Regions from separate parts of the Homo sapiens genome. Here region 1 is linked to region 2. A link means that fine-mapping ties the variant in region 2 to the expression of a gene that starts in the linked region. Tissue or cell type: thyroid. Region 2 holds a variant in brackets; the other region holds the start of a gene. All regions are shown on one strand. Distances are from middle to middle.

Evidence for each region. PIP is the estimated chance that this variant, and not a neighbour inherited with it, causes the effect.
Region 1: COL15A1 starts here. The variant in region 2 is fine-mapped to the expression of COL15A1 in thyroid (GTEx, PIP 0.95).

Annotation. Positions count from the first base shown.
Region 1 is chr9:98,938,886-98,949,155 of GRCh38, forward strand. COL15A1 (collagen type XV alpha 1 chain) reads left to right here and starts at 5,022. Exons shown (of 42, transcript NM_001855.5): 1 at 5,022-5,187; 2 at 5,277-5,365. The coding sequence starts at 5,177. COL15A1-AS1 (COL15A1 antisense RNA 1) reads right to left here and starts at 5,767. Exons shown (of 1, transcript NR_198999.1): 1 at 2,000-5,767.
Region 2 is chr9:98,909,826-98,920,095 of GRCh38, forward strand. ADIPINT (adipocyte associated pyruvate carboxylase interacting lncRNA) reads left to right here and starts at 1,379. Exons shown (of 2, transcript NR_176918.1): 1 at 1,379-1,645. The variant A/T (reference allele first, on the strand shown) is at 5,030.

The DNA.
Region 1 (10,270 bases), 29 kb after region 2:
AGAAAAATACATCTACTGGCTTCCATTGGCTGAAATTTTGCCCCACAGGGTGTTATTTGCACTGTACTTCCAGGTTGCTCATTGCAGGCACTAAGGATAGTGCTGAGGATGTCATGCCTTAGCATCAACAGGGAAGCCCTGGGGTGGAAGTGAAAGGTGATCAATGTGGACATGAGGCCAGGGGCTGTGAGTTGTATCTGCCTGAAGTTGGTGAGAGTCCAGGTAGAGTTGGTCTCCACAAAGGGGACTGCTGTTAGAACAAGTGGCCAGAGACCCTGGAGACGGGTGAGACTAAAAGAATTTCAAGCAGCTATCTTAATTTGGATTCCCGCAGCAAAAGACTCAGAGGCAAGGATTCCACTGCCAGCAGTTCACTTGGTCAGTTTTCTTAAGAAGCACTGGAAGGGGAGTGGGGAAATGAGGTGGCCAATAAAGAGTGAGTGCACAATACCCCTGTGGGAAACCGGAGCTCAGTCCTGTGGAAACTCTGGATAGAAGTATAGAATGTGTGCCTGCCTAGGTGTTCCCACCAGCTGGGTAAGGGGGCTGAGATTCTCATCCACCAGCTCCTGACCATCACTGATTGAGAGCTGCTTGGGGAAGGGGTTGCTCCATTAATTTCCCAACACTTCTGGTCTTCTGTGCTTGTGGGCAGAGCAGGCTCCAGGGGCCAGAGAAAGCGCTCAGGTGAAGGGATGCAGGTGCTGGCAGTTGGAAGACAGCCACCCTGCACATAAATGATCAAGATGGAGGGGATCTGGACAGGATGTTGCAGTGGCACATAAAAGGTGTCTGATACATTCTCCCTCCTTTTTCTTTTCCTCTTGGATTGTCAGATTTTCAAATCCATCATTTTCTCTTATGTTGAACCAATGACTCTTGTCTCAGCCTGTGGCCCCTCTTTGCATATCCAAACACATCAAGATGCTCAGCAGAACAAATGAGTCCTCCTTGGAAGGTAGTTGTGGGCTTAAACAGTCATTATTTTCTCTTGGTTATCCCAAAGGCAGCTATCTCTTTAGTTATTCTAGTAAATTCTATTCTAGTTAGCTAGTTAAATCTATTGCACTTTTTCTGCACATTAAATCAGATGATATGCAAGCTCTAACTACCTCCTGTAGACGTTCTCATCACAACTCCACAAGGGAGGCATTGTACCCATGTAGTGAATAAACTGAGGTCTAGAATGACATGCACTATATTCTTGGTAACTTCTTCAGAAACCAAAGTTTTAGATGATTTCCACAGATTTTTGTGCCCCTTCCAGCTGCTTGAGACAGTATGGAGAATGCTTTTGGATATTGAGTTATCAGGGACATTGGGTAGATTATGGGAAAATGGAACAGCCTATTAATTTAGTCCAGTTCTGTAAGAGTTGGGACATAAGATCCCCAGTCTTCACACATCCCAATCTCACAGATTACACTGAACGGTGGTAAACAATTTAGATCAGCTTGGGTATGACACGAAGCTTCCTCTTGGCTATTTCTACAACTTAACATTGAATGGAAGGAAATCACTTAAGCCCTAAAAACACTGTCTGGCAGGAGGTAAAATGTCTTGCTTGGCTTCCTGCCCCATCCCTCCCACACCCACAGCTGGGACCATTTGGCCCCCACTTCAGCTCCCAGGCCTGAGACCCTCCCTGTTCTTCATCTGCCTGAGTTCAGGGACAAGCTGCAAACTGAGAGCCCTTCTTGAATATGAACATGGTCTGGCTTCCCAGGAGAAATAGGTGCAAAATCAACAACCTTAACACGAGTCTATTTCCAGTCATTTGTAGATGAGAAGTGTGCTTTGGGAAACTTCATTTTTAGATTCCAGTGAATTGGGTATCATCAGTTACAGAGAACCAACAAAATATGAAATGTGCACATAGGACTTCCCTGCAAGAGTAGAAAGGAATCTGTTGCCTTATGCATATGTATCTTGGACTGATAAATTGGATCACAATCAAGTCTTCACCCTTCATGTTATATATGTAACTGAGGAGGCCAGGTTTGTTTCATAATGGCACCTTCATTTTTATTTTTTTCAATGTACACACTTTATTTGTATATTAAACAAGTAGAAATATGTTTTTCCCCATCTTTCTTTAAACATGTTCTTCTCCCCATATATCTTCTGTTTACCCATTTTTAACAGGAACATGAGCATTCAACCTATTCCATTTTTTCTTATATGCAAAGGCAGAGTGCAACTGTGATAGGGGCAATTGATTCTTAGCTTTGGTTTTGGGGACAATATGGGGTGGTGGGAACTACGGCAAACTGGACAGTACTGCCTTAGCTGAAGGCAGCAGCCCCTATTCAATGCCAATCAATTGTTGGCACAGAGAATGCAGGCCTTATGTCGCCAGGTTTTCCAAAATTTCAAAAAGAATCCAGAAGTCTCAATTTTACTGTGCAATTCTCTAATTATCAAATATTGCTAGCCAATTTAATTTGGAGGTTGACACCCAGCAGACCAGATAAAACATATCTATGGGCAAAATTGAAGGCTGGGCATGGTGGCTTATGCCTTTAATCCCAGCACTTTAGAAGGCTGAGATGGGTGGATCAACTTGAGGTCAGGAGTTTGAGACCAGCCTGGCCAACATGGTGAAACCCCGTCTCTACTAAAAATACAAAAATTAGCCGAGTGTGGTGATGGGCGCCTATAGTCCCAGCTACTTGGAAGGCTGAAGAGGAGAATCACTTGAACCCGGGAGGCGGAAGTTGCAGTGAGCCACCATTGCACTCCATCCTGGGTGACAGAGCGGCACTCCATCCTGGGTGACAGAGCGACACTCCATCTCAAACAAAAACAAAAACCAAAATCAAAAATGAAACAAAATTGAGCCTATGGCTGCCAGTTCACAATCTCTGGTTTTAAAACTGTCAAACAGAACCCTAGATCTACTATGTAGCCATAACTGATGTGGTTTTTCTAAGCAGTATAGAAATATAGTTCTAAGAAAGTCAATTATATTCCTAGTTAATGTGGTACTTTACAAACAATAGAGAAATATAGAATTATGAAAGCAAATTCCCTATGGTTAGTGAATCAAAATAAAATAAGGTTAGGCCCATCACAGAGTGGCTGCAAGTGGGAGAGAATTTACATTCACAGGGAATGTGAACAGATTAGGAAAGAGGCCTCAAGTGGACAATTTTGTCGGGATGCAGTTCGCCTTATGTGTTAGCTCCACATGAGGCCAACCTGGTTCTCGAGCTGCTTTGGCTACTGGAGCCTCAATCCCTTAAGAGGTTGATCTAGGGTCCCCCCTCTGTCTTGCCAGTTGTCCCCCTCCACAGGCCGCAGCCCCGATGAGAATATCCACAACCTCTAATAATAGAAGCCAAAATCCAATGGACAGAGAGCACTGTGGTGTACCAGTAGGTGGTCCCATCAAGGGACTCACAGCCACCATTCAATTCAAGGTAGTTGTGTCCATTATCCAGGTGGAGAAATAAAAAATCAGACCAAGGGCAAGATTTGCCCAACTTCACCCTGCAGCCAGGGCCAGCATTGGACTGGAACCCAGACTCCTGATCTCCAGGCCAACCATCCCTCCTCTGAGCCCTCACCGCCCAGGCTGGCATGAACCCTTTCATATCCGAGTGCTCTGTGTCTCCACTGCGATTTTGCTCTTGAGGGTGGAGAGTGAGTCTAATCTTCTTGCTTACTGGCAGGCAGCATGGCTGAGTGGGGAGGAGCATGGGTGTTGCATCTGCCATTCATTAGCCTTGGAATGTTTTGAACCTCAGCTTTCTTATCTATGAAATGGGGATCATGACAGTATCACCTTTCCATGGCTGTTGTGGGTATTAAATGAGATAACACAGCTAAAGCATTTAGCAGAGGGCTTGGGACATAATCCACACCAAGTAAGCATTAGTTGCTTATATCCATTCCCATGCCATCTCCTCTGCAAGGCTAACTCACTTGGCAAGAGGTGACCCATCCTCTAGAGTGGAACTGAATCAAACACAGGAACTGACCACAGAGCCACGGCCCACTGTGGCTACTTGGTGCTTCAGGAAGAGAGGTTTCTAGTGTTTACCTGGCTTCAGAGCTGTCCAGGTCTCAGCCAACTTCAGCGGTGCCTCTTCTCACTCCAAGATCTCACACTATGTGCCGGGTGGTAATCTTAATAAAAAGCGACCATTGAGGGTTTACCCAGTGCCCTGCGATAAGCTCTGCACAGATGGGTTAGTCTGCCCTGAACCGCCTCACTCCCACTGAGGGCTTTCGGAGGCAGAGCCTGGTTCATGACCCCCACATCTCATCACAGGGCCTGGTGTGATGCCTCACCCAAGACTGTGCTCCTTCATTCATCCAGCGTTTATTGGCATCTCCTACTACCTGAGCTGTTTTAGGCAGGGAACAAAGCACAGATAAGCCCTCCTGGAGCTTACATTCTGATGAAGGGGGCAGGCAAGGTATACATAGGGAGGAAAGCCCTGGAATCCAGTACATTAAAAACTTTTATTAGGATTATCTCTGCTGCATTTAGTTGTATGTATCCCTTATGGCCCCCAGGCAGGTCCACTCCTGGGCATTCAAGTCGGTCCATGTGTCAGGCGTGCAGGGTGGGTCACAGCATCTAGGAGCTCAGTGCAGCTTGGGACTTTGGGACATACGCTCCACCTCTCTGAGCCTCAGTCTCCTTGTCCATCATATAAGGAAATCACTGATTCCAGCCTTCCTGGGCTGTGGAGAGGATTCCCTCAGCGGCTGTGAAAGAGTGCTTTCTTGCGGGTCAGCCCCGACAGGACAGACTTAAGGGCGGGAGGGAGCCCATCCCGCTTGCCCCAACGAACGCGGGCGCGGGGCTTTCCTCGCAGGTTACATAAGGCAGCCGCGGGTGGAGGCAGCAGAGGCGAGCGCACGTCCGTCGAGGGGGAAAGGGGCGTGGGGAGGCGGCCGGGGCGGCCGGTATCCCCCGGGCGTGAGTGCGCAGCGCGCGGGGGAGCGCAGGGCGCGGCGGAGTCGGGTTTCAGAGCGCGGGTGACTCGGGGCGCGGGCCGGGAGCCGGGATTCTGCCCGCCGCCGCCGCTGCCGAGCGCCGCCTTTGTTCCCTGCAGGAAGGGCGAGCGCGGCGGCCAGCGCTCAGCGACCCTTCGTCCTCCGCTAAGCTCCAACGCTCTGCTCGACTAGCCGCGCGCCTTCCGGGGCTCCGCAGACCCGCGAGATGGCACCAAGGTAAGACCCGCTTCTCTGCTTCCTCGCGTCCCGGGCCCCTCCAATACTCTTGCCCGCCTCACCTTTTCTCCCTCGGGCACATCTTGCAGGAGGAACAACGGGCAGTGCTGGTGTCTGCTGATGCTGCTCTCGGTCTCCACGCCCCTCCCTGCTGTCACCCAGACCCGCGGTGCGACAGGTAAGCAACCCGGTCGGAGGGTGGCACCGGCTGCCTCCGCGCCCGTGGGGGAAGTCGGTTTTGGCGGCGGACGCGGCTGCGATGCGTGCCTCATTCCTGGACATAAAAGGGAGTCTTGCCACTCAGTGCGCACTGGCGGTCCCGCGGGCGGCTACCTCCTGGCAGTGCAGGGGTTATAGCTGTGAATGGGATCCCTGGGCAGCTGGGGCGGTTGGAGCGTTGTCTGGGCACCCGAGATGTCTGAGCTGGGTGCGGAGCCTCCAATCTTAGGCAGAGAGGGACTTCAGAAACAGCGCCAGCGCCAGCGCCAACAGCCTCAGCGCACCCAGCGCCAGCAGCTTAGGTTGTGCGTGCTGGCTGGCTTCTGGTAAGGGCAGGTCTGGTGCCTCTCCGCACACAGGTGCGAAGCATGAACACCGGGAGGGACATCTGGGGCTTTTGCTGCTCAAGAAATAACGGAACTGAATTGCTCGGTTGCTTAACCCAGCTCTGAGTTACCTAAGCGGTCACGTCTATCATGGGCAGTGGCTCCACCGGTGGTGGAAAGAGCTGTGGCCTGGAAGCCAGAGATCTGATCCCTTCCGTTCCCCGGGCCTCAGTTTCTCCAGCAGAACTCAGGCGGTTGGCTGAATAGTAAGATATAAGTTAAAGTAGACCTAAGTTAAAATGGGCCTCGGTTAAGGTCAGACTGCCTGGGTTTGAACTGTGGCTGGCTGAGTGATCTTGGGCAATGGATTTCATCGCTCTGTGCCTCAGTTTCCCCATCTGAAAAAGGCGATTAATTAGACCATTTTACCTTCCTAGAAATGTTGTGAATATTAGAGAAATTAGAAATAATGTGCTTCCCATGATTCCAGTATATACTAGGCACAAAATAAGTGATAGAAATTACTGCTTGATTCTTGCAGTAACTATGTGTTGGAAAGCAATGCAAGTATTTTTATTTTTATTTTAGATTCAGGGAGTGGTCATGTGTGGTTTTTTACAAGGGTATATTGCACGGTGCTGAGGTTTGGGCTTCTATTAATCCCATCGCAATGCAGGTATTTTTATAACATTGAGGTTGAGAGAAGCTTAGAAAGTGGCCAGTCCAAAAGCCAGGACTTGAATCCAGGTCTGTAGGCTCTTGCCCTTGCTCAGCTCTTTCTCCATGCAGTTTTGCAGAAGAGCCATGCTTTCTATAGCTTCTGACCCCCTCCCCTTTGAATTTGGGGGATTAGTACACATCTTCAATTGAATAAGGGAACAGAAAGTCTAGGAAACAACCTCTAGTCGGCCCAAAGGAAACGGGATTGAGAAGGTGGCCTTGGTTAACTCTTTGTTTGCCTGAAGAAGCCCAAGACAGCCCATTGTCTCCTGGGCAACAAGACCCAAATCCGATGATAGCTTTTCCTGCCAGAGTGTCCAGCCTGGCATTTATTGCAGATCAAAGGGCAGCTGGAGTATAGTTTTAGCTTCTCAGCCCCATGGCTCATGTCAGAAAGTTGCAATTTTGCATATGATATAGGGCCCTGCCAACTCAGTGGCAGAGGCCAACTTTGGGTTCCATGGTCTTTTGTGAACTTTGCTGCAACTTCCAGTTTCCCAAAAGGAAGATGGATCTGGGGATAGGAACTTTGGTGTTTCTTTCTCCTCCTGTGTGTGTCTCTGGGATCCCTCAGTGTCAGGGCTGTTGTTTCTAACACAAAGGAAGCCCTATTCCCATTTATAATGTAAAAAGGGAGGGCCAGCAAACCTTCAGGAGCTGAGAACGGTCTAAGGAGGGCCATTTGCAACTGATGGGTTTTCAGTGCCCCTTTGGGGATGTGAAACGATTCCTAAAAATGTAAACTATCCTCCTGCAAACTGCATTTGTAATGCAATTTAATATCCCTAATACTTATAAAACACTTTGTATATCCAGGTGGAGGTGTGAACATGTTCATATTTCATTCATCCAATCCTTACAACCACTCCAGGAGGTGAGGACTGAGAACAGTTACTATCTCTGTTTTTCAGATGAAGAAACAGAGGTCCAAAGTCACAAGACTTCTAAGTGGCTGGGGTGGGATTTGAACCAGACAGTCTGACTCCAGAGTCCTTGCTCTTAACCATCCTAGTGTGTAGTTAGAAGAGCTTCACGGATGGAGAAGGCTTTAGGGGTTCCATGGTCTCCAATGAGCCCCACAATCTGAATGTCACAATTGTAACATGAGTCCATTGCATGGCATTGTGCAGTCTTCAAAGCACAATGTCACCTTCACCACGTCCCTGGAATCACCACCCAGCAGTGCTGAGAAGTAAATTGGGCTCTGTCTTACAGAGGGGATGTGACTTCCTCAAGGCCGCATGACTGTAACTGGGTAGATCCATAATAGCCCTCTCACGTCTGTGAACTTCTGGGCTGGTGCTGTTCCTTCCATAGGACCACTGCCCAACTGGCTATAAAAAACAATTGCCAAGACTTCATAGCACTATGAACCAGCAGTGTTTTAAGTGCCCTGCCATGAATGAGCTCAGTCAATCATCACAACAACCCCATGTCTTATCCCCTTTTACAGATGAGGAAACTGAGGCACAGTCTTTTGCCCAAGGGCATGTAGCCTTCAGTAATATAAGCACAATTTGAGCCCAGAGGGTCTGACTCCAGAATCTGTACTTGTAACCACTATGCTGTATGCTTAAGTGGGGTGGCTTCTGAAAGCATGTTTGTAAGTGGGCTGTTATGAGCGGAAATACATGTTCCCAACGATTTGGCAGTTTCTTAAAATGTTAAATATATACTTACCCTACAATCTAGAACTTCCACTCCTAAGTATCTACTTAAGGGAAAGGAAAGCATATGGCCACCCAAAAACTCATATGTATGTTCATAGCAGCATTATTTATAATGACCAAAACTGGAAATAAAGTTAAATTCACCATTAGCTGGTGAATAGATAAACAAATGAGGTGTATCCATTTAATGGAATACTACTCAGCAATAAAAAGGAATGAAGTATTGATCAATGCTACAACAACATGGATAAACCTTAATACCATTAAGCTAAGTAAAAGAAGCCAGACATTAAAAAGCAATACATTGTAAGAGTCCCTATATATGAGATTTCTGTAAAGGCAGAACCACAGAGACAGAAAACAGAAGCAGAGATTGACTGCAAAGGGGCATGAGGAAACTTTTTGGGGAGTGTTCTAAAACTGGATTGTGGTGGTAGTTGTGCAACTCTATAAATTTACTAAAATAATCTAACTATACATTTAAAATGGGTGAATTTTATGGAATGTAAGCTATGCCTCAATAAAGCTGCTTCTTAAATAAAAGAATGTATTTTCCCAGAGCATCTAGGCCCCAGATCTGGTGGGGCTTCAAGGTGGGGTTCCTAGCCAGCCTGGTACAGAGCTGGCACACAGCTCACAACTTAAAAGCTGCTGGCCTCTTAGGGCATTGATTCTCTCAGAAAATGGGTCCAGAGTTCTGCCTGCACCTCCAGGTCTCTGGATCGACTCTCCCTACTATCCCTGAATGCCATTGTGGGCCCAGGACAGGGCTCCTCAGGTAGGGGTAGAACACATGCATATGGGTTTTTTGCAGGTAGTTGATCTGTTAAAAAGTGGGTCTTTGTAAACTTCCTGATATCCTGCACGCCCTAAAACAGCACAAGTTCAGGTATTGGAAAACCTGGGTTCCACTCACTGACTTCCTCCATGAACTTAGATGAGTTGCTTTTCCCACTCTGAGCCTGTTTTCCCATCTACGAAGTGGAGAGGCAAGAGTCACTCATCTCTGTAGTCCTAATTTAAAATGTTGGGAAACAAAACAAAATAATATTTTTCTAGTTTGAGGTTTGATTATTTCACATAGTTTAGTTCAACAAACCCATTCTGTGCTGGCCCTCATGCTGGCTGGGTACAGAAAGGATTTGGGCACAGAGCTGCCCCAAAGGGGTCATAGTTCACAGGAAGAAAGAAAGGGCCACAGACAACTGTAATGCCATTTTTCCTGAAGTCTTCTCATCTACCATGCAGAATGTCCTGTGTGCAGCCAATCCCATCCTTCTACACCATCCTGTTTAAAGACACACTTGTCGGCCGGGCGCGGTGGCTCACACCTGTAATCCCAGCACTTTGGGAGGCTGGGGCGGGCAGATCATTAGGTCAGGAGATTGAGACCATCCTAGCTAACACGGTGAAACCCTGTCTCTACTAAAAATACAAAAAATTAGCCAGGCATGGTGGCGGGCGCCTGTAGTCCCAGCTACTTGGGAGGCTGAGGCAGGAGAATAGCTTGAACCTGGGAGGCGGAGGTTGCAGTGAGCCAAGATCGCGCCACTGCACTCCAGCCTGGCAACAGAGGGAGACTCTGTCTCAAAAAAAAAAAAAAAAAAAAAGAGACACTTGTCAGTGGGTGTCACCCACATGGCCTCTTGTACCTCCAATGGTCAGGGTTGAGCTGGAGGACAACACCAATCCTTCCTTTTCCTGGTAAAGTTTCAGGGTCATTGGAATACCCAATATTTTAGAAGATAAGGGGGCTATTGTCCAGGTAGGGATGGTGGTGTCACAAGTAATTTGCTCTTGCTAATAAAGTGTTGATGATTGCAAATTATTTGCTTATGTTTAAACTGTTTTATTGTGAAATACAACATCCATTCAGAAAAGTGCATGCTAAAGGTACAGTACAATCTTGTATCACAGAGCAAACATGTAATCCAGATGAAGATATAGGATAATCCCCAGAAGGTCTCCTAAACCCCTTTGCTGTGGTTTTATTTTCCCTTCTTTCTCTCTGAGGTAACCATTACCTTGACATTAACAGTCATCCCTTTCTTGCTTTTTAAAAATAGCTTTACTATCTAAGTGTGTATCCCAAAATTCTGAAGTTCTGTTTTACTCGATTTTGAACTTTTTAAATGCAGAATCTATTCT
Region 2 (10,270 bases):
CCAACCTAGGCAACATAGTGAGACCTCCTTCTCTACAAACAAACAAACAAACAAACAAAATTAGCTGAGCATGGTGGCACATGCCTGTGGTCCCAGCTACTCAGGAGGCTGAGGTGGGAGGATCACTTGGGCCTAGGAGGTCAAGGCTATAGTGAGCTGTGATTGTGCCACTGCCCTCCAGCCTGGGTGACAGAGCTAGACTCTGTCTTTAAAAAAAAAAAAAAAAGCTTCACAACAACAAACAAATCTATTAATATGTACTAAAATGTTAAAGTGTATTAGTCAGGATAGGCTGGATTTTGCTTCAGTAATAAACAACTCTTAAATATGCATGGCTTAAAATAGCAAAGGCTCACTTCTCACTCATGCTCCACATTCATTGTAGGTTTGTGGGGTCATCGTTCACACTGACCTGTCTTAGATACTCAAGGTTCACCACCTGGAATGCTGTGGGTCACTGCAGCAGGGGGAGGAGAAGATGAAGAATCTCTTAGCAGCACTAGAATGCTTCTGCCTGGTGGTAACACACCACTTCCCATTTCACAGGCCAAAGGAAGGGACATACAATCCTATTGTGTGCTCAGGTGGAAAATAACCAGAAAAACTGAGGAACAAGCATTAATGTTGACTACATAGAGGCTCAGTGTTTTAAAATAATAGAGGAAACCCTGCAGGCAAGAAGAAGTTTCAGTATTCTCCACTCTTGCCATTAATCACTAGGGATTTGCTGGCCATTTTAAAATCAGAATATGCCCAGACATTTGCATAGAAGAAGTTCCTTTTGTTTCTCCCTTCGGTCTATGTCAGAGGTCCTGAATTTCCAGTGTGCGTAAGTATTCTTGTTTGCCATTGTACAACGCTGTGTACACAATCCTAAAAGGCTTTCAGAGTGTTTTGGACATAAGCATTTTCCCTGTATGTGCTGAGTTTAGAACCTAATTTACTTAGGATGTGACTTTGCAGTACTTAATTGACACTAATGCCTGATTTTAGTTGTCCCAAAGTTTTATCACATTCTCCTCTTCTGTGCGTCACTTACAACCCTAGGAGCTAGTTTTTATCCAAAACTCTGAAAAACGTCGTCCACATACATTATCTTATTTAGTAACACTTGTAACCCAAAGGAGTTGGTTTATTAGTGGAACATTTCCATTCTACAGAGAGGGCAAGTGACTTGCTCAAGGACACAGCGCAGATATGTGGAAGTCGAATTTGTGAACATATTTCTGTCTGGCTTTAAATTCTGTGACTTTCTCATGATCCTAGGCAGGCTTCCAGCTGGGACAAGGAGGTCTTATTTGGAAAGGGAGTTTATAGGCCCTGAACTCTGCTCTGGAAATCTGTGAAAAGAACAGGAGGGAATGAGAGGCTCAGCCCCATAGACCCTTCTCCCTGCTGCCATCCACTCAGGGCATTGTGCTTAGTGAAAGCCCAGTTTCCGCAGGGATTACTTTGGGCACACAACATTCTAGGAGCTGGATGTCCAGGAATTCCTGTTAATTAGGCATTTATTCACGGAATAAATGTTTCCCTGAAGAGCTTTCTGCAGCTGGCCAATGTTCCGGTTTGGTCGTGGGCAGTGAGATGCCCATTAGTCTAGAATACACGACAGTGTGAGGCGCACGTTCACACGTGAATTGCCCGTGTAAGTAGTATAAGTATGTAACATGTATAAGTGTGTAAGCTGTGTAATATGTATGTGTAGGGTTGGTGCTTGTGTTAGCTGTTCTCTGTTTGTAGAGTCACTAGATAAAATACAGGATGCTCAATTTAATCTGAACTTCAGATGAGCATCAAATTATTTTTTAGTATAAATTTATCCATGCAGCATTTGGAACATAATTATACTAAAAACATGTTATTCATCTGAAATTCAAATGTAACTGGTCATCTTGTGTTTCGGTTTGGTAATCTGGCTGCTATGTCTACATGCATGTGTGTCAGCATAAATGGACTTGCTTGTTTATACCCCAGGGTGCACCTGAGTGTGTGTGTTTGTGCCCGTGTGTCTCTGGGTGGGTACGGGGGTCTGTGTGCATGTGTACCTCGCTGATAAGGAGTCAGTGGCTGGTTGGGAACCAACTGCTTCACCATCCATAGCTCATCTCCTGCCAGTCCAACCCTACTGGAGCAAGAGGGGTCAGGATGGGCCAGGCATGGTGACTAAAGCCTGTAATCCCAGCACTTTGGGAGGCCGAGGTGGGTGGATCACCTGAGATCGGGAGTTTGAGACCAGCCTGGCCAACATGGTGAAACCCCGTTTCTACTAATAATACAAAAATTAGCTGGGTGTGGTGGCAGGCACCTATAATCCTAGCTACTCAGGAGGCTGAGGCAGAAGAATCGCCTGAACCCAGGAGGCAGAGGTTGCAGTGAGCTGAGATTGCGCCATTGCTCTCCATCCTGGGTAACAAGAGCAAAATTCAGTCCCCAAAAGAGAGACAGAAAAAAAAAAGAGGGGTCAGGATGGGCCTTGAATACCTGGTCAGGGAGCTTGGACTTTCTCCTGAGGGTAGCCACGTAAGGCTCTGAGTAAGGGAGCAAACAGATCTAGATGTGTTCTACAGAAGTCCCTCTGGCTGCATTGCAGAGAAAGAGCTGGAGAAGGCAACACCAGAGGGAGGCTGAGGGAGCTGGATGGTGACCATAGTGAGGGAGGGTGAAGATCTGGGCTAAGGCTTTGGCAGTGGAGATGGAGGGAAAGGGTCTAATTGCAGGACTCGTTGAACAACCATGAAGGGGCTGAGGAAGTCTGAAGTTGCAGGTGGTGTTCATGTTTCCAGCCTGGGCACCTGGGCTGATGAACCATGGGCCCCTTGGTGTTTATCTTGCTCCCTTCCTCACCCTCAATGTCAGGCACAGTGCCTGGCATGTAGTGGATGCTCTGTGGGTGTTTATGGCATGAATACATGTACATGTTGATGAGAGAAGTGGGGAATACATCAGGAAGAGGAAGAGGAGAAGAAGGTAGAGGAGGGAGAGGGAGAGGAGGAAGCGAAGGAAGAGGAGAAGAAGGGGAGGGAGGAGGAGAGATACATCCTGACTGCATGTCAGCGCTGGGGACTGACAGTGTCTATTTCATCCCTGGCTATAGCTCCACATTAAAATAGTACCCAGCAGTGAGTAAATGACAGTGTAAACCAAATCCAAGCACAGTGCCTGGCATATCGTAAAAGCTCAATAAATGTGCATTCCAACCTTCTTTTCAGGGAGTAAAGATGCTTCCATTATTCCAAGGAATTTCCTTCCCTGAGCACAGTTTTTCTGTTTTAGGGAGGTAAATGTCCTTTTGCTTGGGACATTTTGTCTTTTCTGCCATTGAATTCCTGGGAAATTCAAATGCACTGGGCCTCAAAGCTTGCTGTGGATCATGGGACAGTTAGAGCCCTAGTGAACAACGGCCCGATCCCAGGGGATGGCGCTAGTCAGGGTCAACCCCCTCATGGCCTCTCCTTCCTTCTGACATAGCCTTGTCGTCTGTTGGGAACCCAGAGATTCTCCTGGGTCTGGCACATAGTATGTGCTGTGTAAATGTTTGCTGTGATTATTTTTGTTATTACTGTCCCTGGGCCTGGTGTTTCCTGAAATTGAATTATTTCTCTGACTCTAAAGCTTAGTTTATTTTATTTTATTCAAGCCTTTGGCTAACATCTCAATAGCTCAGGATTCCCAAAGCAGGGAAGACTAATTCTGACACGATCCCTTTCCGGCAATTTTTAAACACTCATGCCACAGAGGAAGGTAGGCTTCCTTCAAGAGCTCACTTAGTGTAGATAAACATTTGACCGGTGGATATGCAAACAGTCCAAAAATGCACCTTTTTCTAAGTGTAGGGTCTCAAAAAGGGTTTTCAGGATTCAATGCATATTCATTTAGTCATTGGCTTGTTCATCTAGTAGTTCCCACTGGAATATAAACCAGGGCAGGCTTTTTGCCTGCCTTGTGTGCTATTGGAAACCCAGTGGCCGAACAGGGCCCGACACTTCACAACTGCTCAATACATATTTGTTGAATGAATGAATGAATGAATGAGCATCTTATCTGTGCTGGGATGCCTGGCATTTGGATACCAGAATTGGACACAGTCCCTGCAGTCCGTGAGCTTGTGGTCCTGCAGAACATCCCCTGCACCCAACGTCTACGTGAAATACAGTGCAGATCAACCCAACTGCCTGTGAGATAGGGAAGGCACCTGCAGGGGTCACGGAGCCAGGCAGAAGGAGAAGCACTTCTGCTAGGAATACCAGAGAAGGCGTCTTAGACTAAGTGGCATTTTTTTCCCCAAAAGTCTTGAAATCACCTTTTATTTTTGTTATTCTTTGTAGAATATGTCAATGTTTTAATAAGGACTCCATATACACATACAAAAGATCAACTGTGCTAATTATGTTAGGCCAGGTTCATTGAATCCATTTTAATCTTCCAAATTTGTTTTTCTTTAAACCGTCAGTCTAATTATAATTTTAAAACTATGATGAATTTTTATTTCTTTTATTGATATGTAATGTTAAACACATTTATAAGGCACATGTAAGTGTTTTATGCATGGAATGTGTAATGGTCAAGTAAGGGTATTTGAGGTATCCGTCACCTTGAGTATTTATCATTTATTTCTATGTGTTGGTATCATTTCAAGTCCTCTCTTTTAGTTACTTTGAAAGATACAAAATATTGTTTGTTGTTAAGTATAGTCATCCTAGTCTGCTATCAAACATTAGAACTTATTTTTTCTATCTAACTGTATGTTTGTACGCATTAATCACCTTCTCTTCATTATCCTCCTCCCACCCACCTACCCACCCTTCCCAGTCTCTGGTATCAATTATTCTATTCTCTATGCCCATGAGATCAAGTTTTTAGCTCCCACGTATGAGTGAGAACACGCGGTATCTGTCTTTCTGTGCCTGGCATTTTCACTTAACATAATGACCTCCAGTTCCATCCCTGTTGCTGCGAATGACATCTCATTCATTTGTATGGCTGAAGAGTATTTTATTGTGTATCCATACCACATTTTCTTTATTCATCC[A/T]CCTATTGATGGACACTTAGGTTAATTTCATATCTTAGCTATTGTGAATAGTGCTGCAAGAAACATGGGAGTGCAGGTGTCCCTTTGGTACACTTGAATTCCTTTCTTTTGGATAAATACCCAGTAGTGGGATTGCTGGGTCAGGGGGTAGTTCTATTTATAATTTTCTGAGAAACCTCCATTTTGTTTGCCATAGTGGCTGTGCTAATTCACATTCCCAGCAACAGCGTGTTAAGAGTTCCAAGGTGGTATTTGCACCGCTTTGGTTTCAGCATCAAGGAGGAGTTGGTGGAAAGTCAACAGAAGGAGCCATGGTCTAGAGATGGGATATCTTGGTTGGCAGAGGAGTCCTATTTAGGCTCGCTGGGGATAAAGGTCACTGAAGCATATGTTCTGGATGGTAGGGCCCATGTCTGTCTGGTCCTTTGTTACATAGCATGGGATCTGGCACAGTGTGGGCTCTCAATGAGTTGTTGATTAAGAGAAGGAATGAATGACATGAGAGAAGAAAGAAAAGATGGGACCTAGACATCTTTCTGGAGGTTTTCTTGGCAACTATAATGGATTTCATTGCCTCCCCATGTCTGGAAGGAGCCTTAAGCCCCACCCCCATTACCTCCATAGCACTCCACCAAGCGATCATCTCGCTTTGGCTAGGATGCCTCTCAGTGATGGGGTTCTCAATCCCTCCCACACAACCTGTTCCTTTTTTATATAGATCTGATTATTAGAATAGCCGTCCTTCCACTCACCACAAGGAAGCAGAACGGCAGCAGGGAAAGAGCACTCAACCTGGAGTTAGAAGACCCGGGCTTGGCTCCTGAGCCTTCCACTGTCTCACCGTGTGGTTCTTGGGCAGGGGCAGGTGTAGCCAGTGATTATGAGTGTGGGCTTGGACATCTGGCAGATCTGCCTTAATTTCCTTATCTGTAAAATGGGAAGAGCAATAATGCCTACCTCATTAGGGCACTTGTGTGGATTAAATGAGATAATGCATGCAAAGTTCTTAGTGCCTTACCTGGCAAATTAGTGAGTGCTCAATGAAAGTTAGCTATGGTTTTTCATATTATCATCTTCTTCCTGGCTTTCAGTTTCTTCCTCTGTGTAATGGGAATAGGAAGCTCTGCCTTGGATGTCTCTAGGGCTTGGTGTGAGGAGCCAGACAGAGAATGGGCACGAAGGATCCACAGAGGTGAGGGATTCTGCATCATTCCCATCATATCGGCTTTTTCTGTAGGAGACTCCACTAGTGTGTGGTTTACCCCGAGATCACTCCTACAACACCGAGATCCTGAGGTTTTTCCCTCCCGTTGATGGTTAGGTTTCTGTTCCTTGACAGCCTGAATCATGGCCTCCAAGATCTTATTTACTTACTTATTTATTTTTATCAATAAATAAGTATTTATTTATCATCATTTATATGATGATCACGTTGGATTGTCACCCAGGCTGGAGTGCAGGGGTGTGATCATAGCTCACTGCAGCCTCAAACTCCTGGGCTCAAGCAATCCTTCTGCCTCAGCCTCTCTAGTAGCTGGGACTATAGGTGCATGCCACCATGCCTGCATAATTTTATTTTTAATTTTTTTTAGAGTCAAGGATCTTGCTATGGTGCCCAGGCTGGCCTTGAACTTCTGGCCTCAAGCAATCCACCCATCTCAGTCTCCCGAGTAGCCGGGATTACAGATCTACATTTAGAACAGGACTGCAAAGAAAGGAAAGGAGAAATGAAGAAAAGGAAGCAGACAAAGTTCTGGTTTTCAGTAGTTCCTTGGAGAGCTCAAGACTCAGACTCTGACCCTGTCTGCAAAGGGGGATCGTCCAGCCTTTGAAATAACCATTTCCTTCCCTCCTGGCCTTTTTCAGATCAGAGAGGTGGGAGGGGGCGTGGAGATTTAGTTCCCGGATGCACTGAACAGGAGGCTGTGAGCTTTCCTCTGATGTGCGACTCTTCTGCAGGGGCCCTGGCCCTGGGAGGCGGGGCTCTGGGCTGCGGCAGCTCCTCCTGTGGTCTACCTTGGCTTCACTGCAGGCCCAGCTGCTGCTGACCACGCGGGTTTCTTTTAAGAGGCTTGGCTGACCCTCAGCACAGCTGAAATGTTCTGAGACCTTGAATGTCAGAGATGGAAGCAACTTTATGATTCTCTGGGCCAGAGGTTCCCAGGCTGGGGTCCCTGGACTTGGGGTGCTCAGACTATTCCCGGTTCTTTCAAAAGCTGAAAAGAAACAGTATATAGCCCCTGTGTGAGGGCTCACGGGCTCGTAAAAGTATCCGGTGTCTTGACTTTTCTCTGAAATCAGCTCCAGCTGGTCCCTCTGTACCCTGGTGTTGCTGGTGACAGTGATAGCTTCCCACTGAACTTAGCTGCTAGAAGCAAGGTGAAGCCCTTCACACACCATCTCACTGATCTTCGATCCTGTAAGATGGGTACGTTTATGAGTCCTATTTTGCAGATGGAGACACTAAGTGCCAAAGGGGTTAAGCACTGTGCCCGAGTTCACACACCCAGCAGCCTGACTCCACAGCTCCAACCCCCAGCTACTAGCAAATAGTCCTCTGAAAGCTCAGTTATTTAGCTTTGAACACAGCAAAACTCATCATTATTCAGGGAAGATAATTTAGTAGAGAAAATGTTGAGATCTAAGTACTACACTTAGGAGGAATAATAAAAGGGTTGGTGGAATAGTTGAGGATATGCCATTTTTAATTTTTTATTGATTTTGTTTTGTTTTGTTTTGTTTTTCTTTGCTCTTGAGAGATGGCACATGCCACTTTGTTTTGTAAAACAAAGGCCTAGAGAAGTGAGGGTCCTGCCCAGTGTCATCTTGGGAACTGGTAGCCAGGACGAGAACTTGTTTCACTTTGCGTGGACTTCTTGGGTCTGACTCCAGAGGGCCTCCAGGGCAGCAGTGGCTTGTCCCGAGCTGATGGCATATGACTGGGGGTTCCCTGGAAGGGTCTCTGACATCCCCCTGTCCTGGCAGGCCACTCCCCAGCAAGGGTCAGGCCACACATCTTGACTAGCTTTCCACCAGTCCCCACCGACCTCCCACCAGCTGCACATTGCCTTGGCCTTGCCAGACCACAGAGCCGTTTAGAGCTGGCAGAGGCCAGCAGAATTCATCTTCAGCAAACTCTTCCTTCCAATCCCATCATTGTACATGTACTTTATGATTTGCAAAGTGCTTCCACATCTTCCACATCATTCAACTTGAGACCCAGGGCTGTTCTGGGAGCTGGGTGGGGGAGGGATAGTACCCCATTTTACAAAAGGAGAAAAGGAAGTTCTAAGAGGCAAAGTACCTTGTTCAAGGTCACACACTCAGATAAGAAATGTTGGAGTCAGAAGTTGGAGCTGGGTTGACCTTTTCCATTCCAGTGCCTGTTGCACCAAACAGCCTCCCTGTTTGGAATGAGGAATTGCAAGAAGCAGCGGTAAGTCACATGCCAAGCTGGGTTGTGCCAAGAACTTTATATTTAACTAACAGCATCGCCATTAACCATATCTTTTTTCCCATAGTGGACAAATACAGGTACCTAAATTAAAACAATTTTATCTGTGTCAACCAAGATTGCAGGCCTGCACTCTGAGAACTCATGATGTAATGAATAGACACAAATGTTCAAGGCAGAAGTGGTTTATATTCTAGACTCATAACTGTCTCACTGTGACCCTGAGAAAATGTTATGCTCTGGGCCCCTGTTTTCCATGTGTACAATGAAGATAATAATACCTAACACCTACCTTGCTTGTTATGAAAATGATTAGGGCCGTCATATACAAGTTTCTTCGTAAAATTTTAAGACGTGTTATACAACTATTACACATGACCATGAATCTTCGTAAACACCTAAGGCAAGGGAAATTCACATACACACACACACACACACACACACACACACACACACACATAAACACATTTATATGTAATTAATGATGAATAAGTACATCCTAAGTAGTTTACATGGCTCATTCTATTAATTGGAACAAGAGCCTTGTGGAAGCTAGTACCATGATCATTCCCATTTTATAGATGAGGAAACTGAAACCCAGAGATCTTAAGTAACAGGTAGCAAATGGCAGAAGCAGGATATGAAATCTGGATAACAGGTAAGCTCTTTAACAGCCAAGGTGCATCAGAATCACCTGAAGGGCTGGTTAAAATATGAAATGCTGAGTCCCACCCCGTGATTCTGATTCAATAGGTTTGGTGTGGGGCCTGAAAATTGGATGCTGATACTGCCGGATCAGGGACCACACTTTGAGAGCCACTATGTTAAGCTTTGTGCCCAAGACCACATACCCAGCAGTCTGACTCCACAGCTCCAACCCTCAACTACTAGCAAATAAATAGTCTTTTAAAAGCTCAGTTGTATAGCTTTGGATACTGCAAAACTCATCATGATTCAGGGAAGGGAATTTGGTAGAGAAAATGTTGGGGTCTCAGTACTACACGTAGGAGGAATAATAAAAGGGTCTCACTGCTTGTAATCCCAGCACTTTGGGAGGCCGAGGCGGGCTGATCACGAGGTCAGGAGATCGAGACCATCCTGGCCAACATGGTGAAACCCTGTCTCTACTAAAATACAAAAAATGAGCCTGGTGTGATGGTGCATGCCTATAGTCCCAGCTACTCGGGAGGCCGAGGCAAGGGAATCGCTTGAACCCAGGAGGCAGAGGTTGCAGTAAGCTGAGATCGCGCCACTGCACTCCAGCCTGGCAACAGAGCAAGGCTGTGTCTCAAAGAAAAAAAAAAAGTGTCTCACTGTATACAGAGCTCTCCTGCCCTTCCAATGGCCCAATCCAGGCCCCCTGAGGCCTGTGACACAGGTTAGCTGGATCTCTGTATGCACTAGGTGCTTGACTTATGTCTGGTAGATACATGTTACGCTAATGGAGAGGTGTGGAAGTGGACGGTGATGCTGGGTAGACCTTTTCTCCTTCGGAAACCAAGTGAGAGAAGTTACCCCATGCATTTGCCTGTGTTTGAAGGCCCTGCAGGTGCCTGAATCTTTGTGGCTGTGGCTACTCAGGCCCTTCCCCAGGGCCATCCAGCAGGAGGGAAGGCCATTTGTCTGGAAAAGGCACAGGAGAGAATTCACATGATGTCTTCCCAGCTCCCATCAGTCAGGGTTTCCCTTTAAGCTCCTCACACTCCCAGATTTCAGGAAACAGTCTATGAATGGAGAGAAAAGGCACAGCCTTCAAAAACAGAAAGCACAGACCAAGAATATTTAAA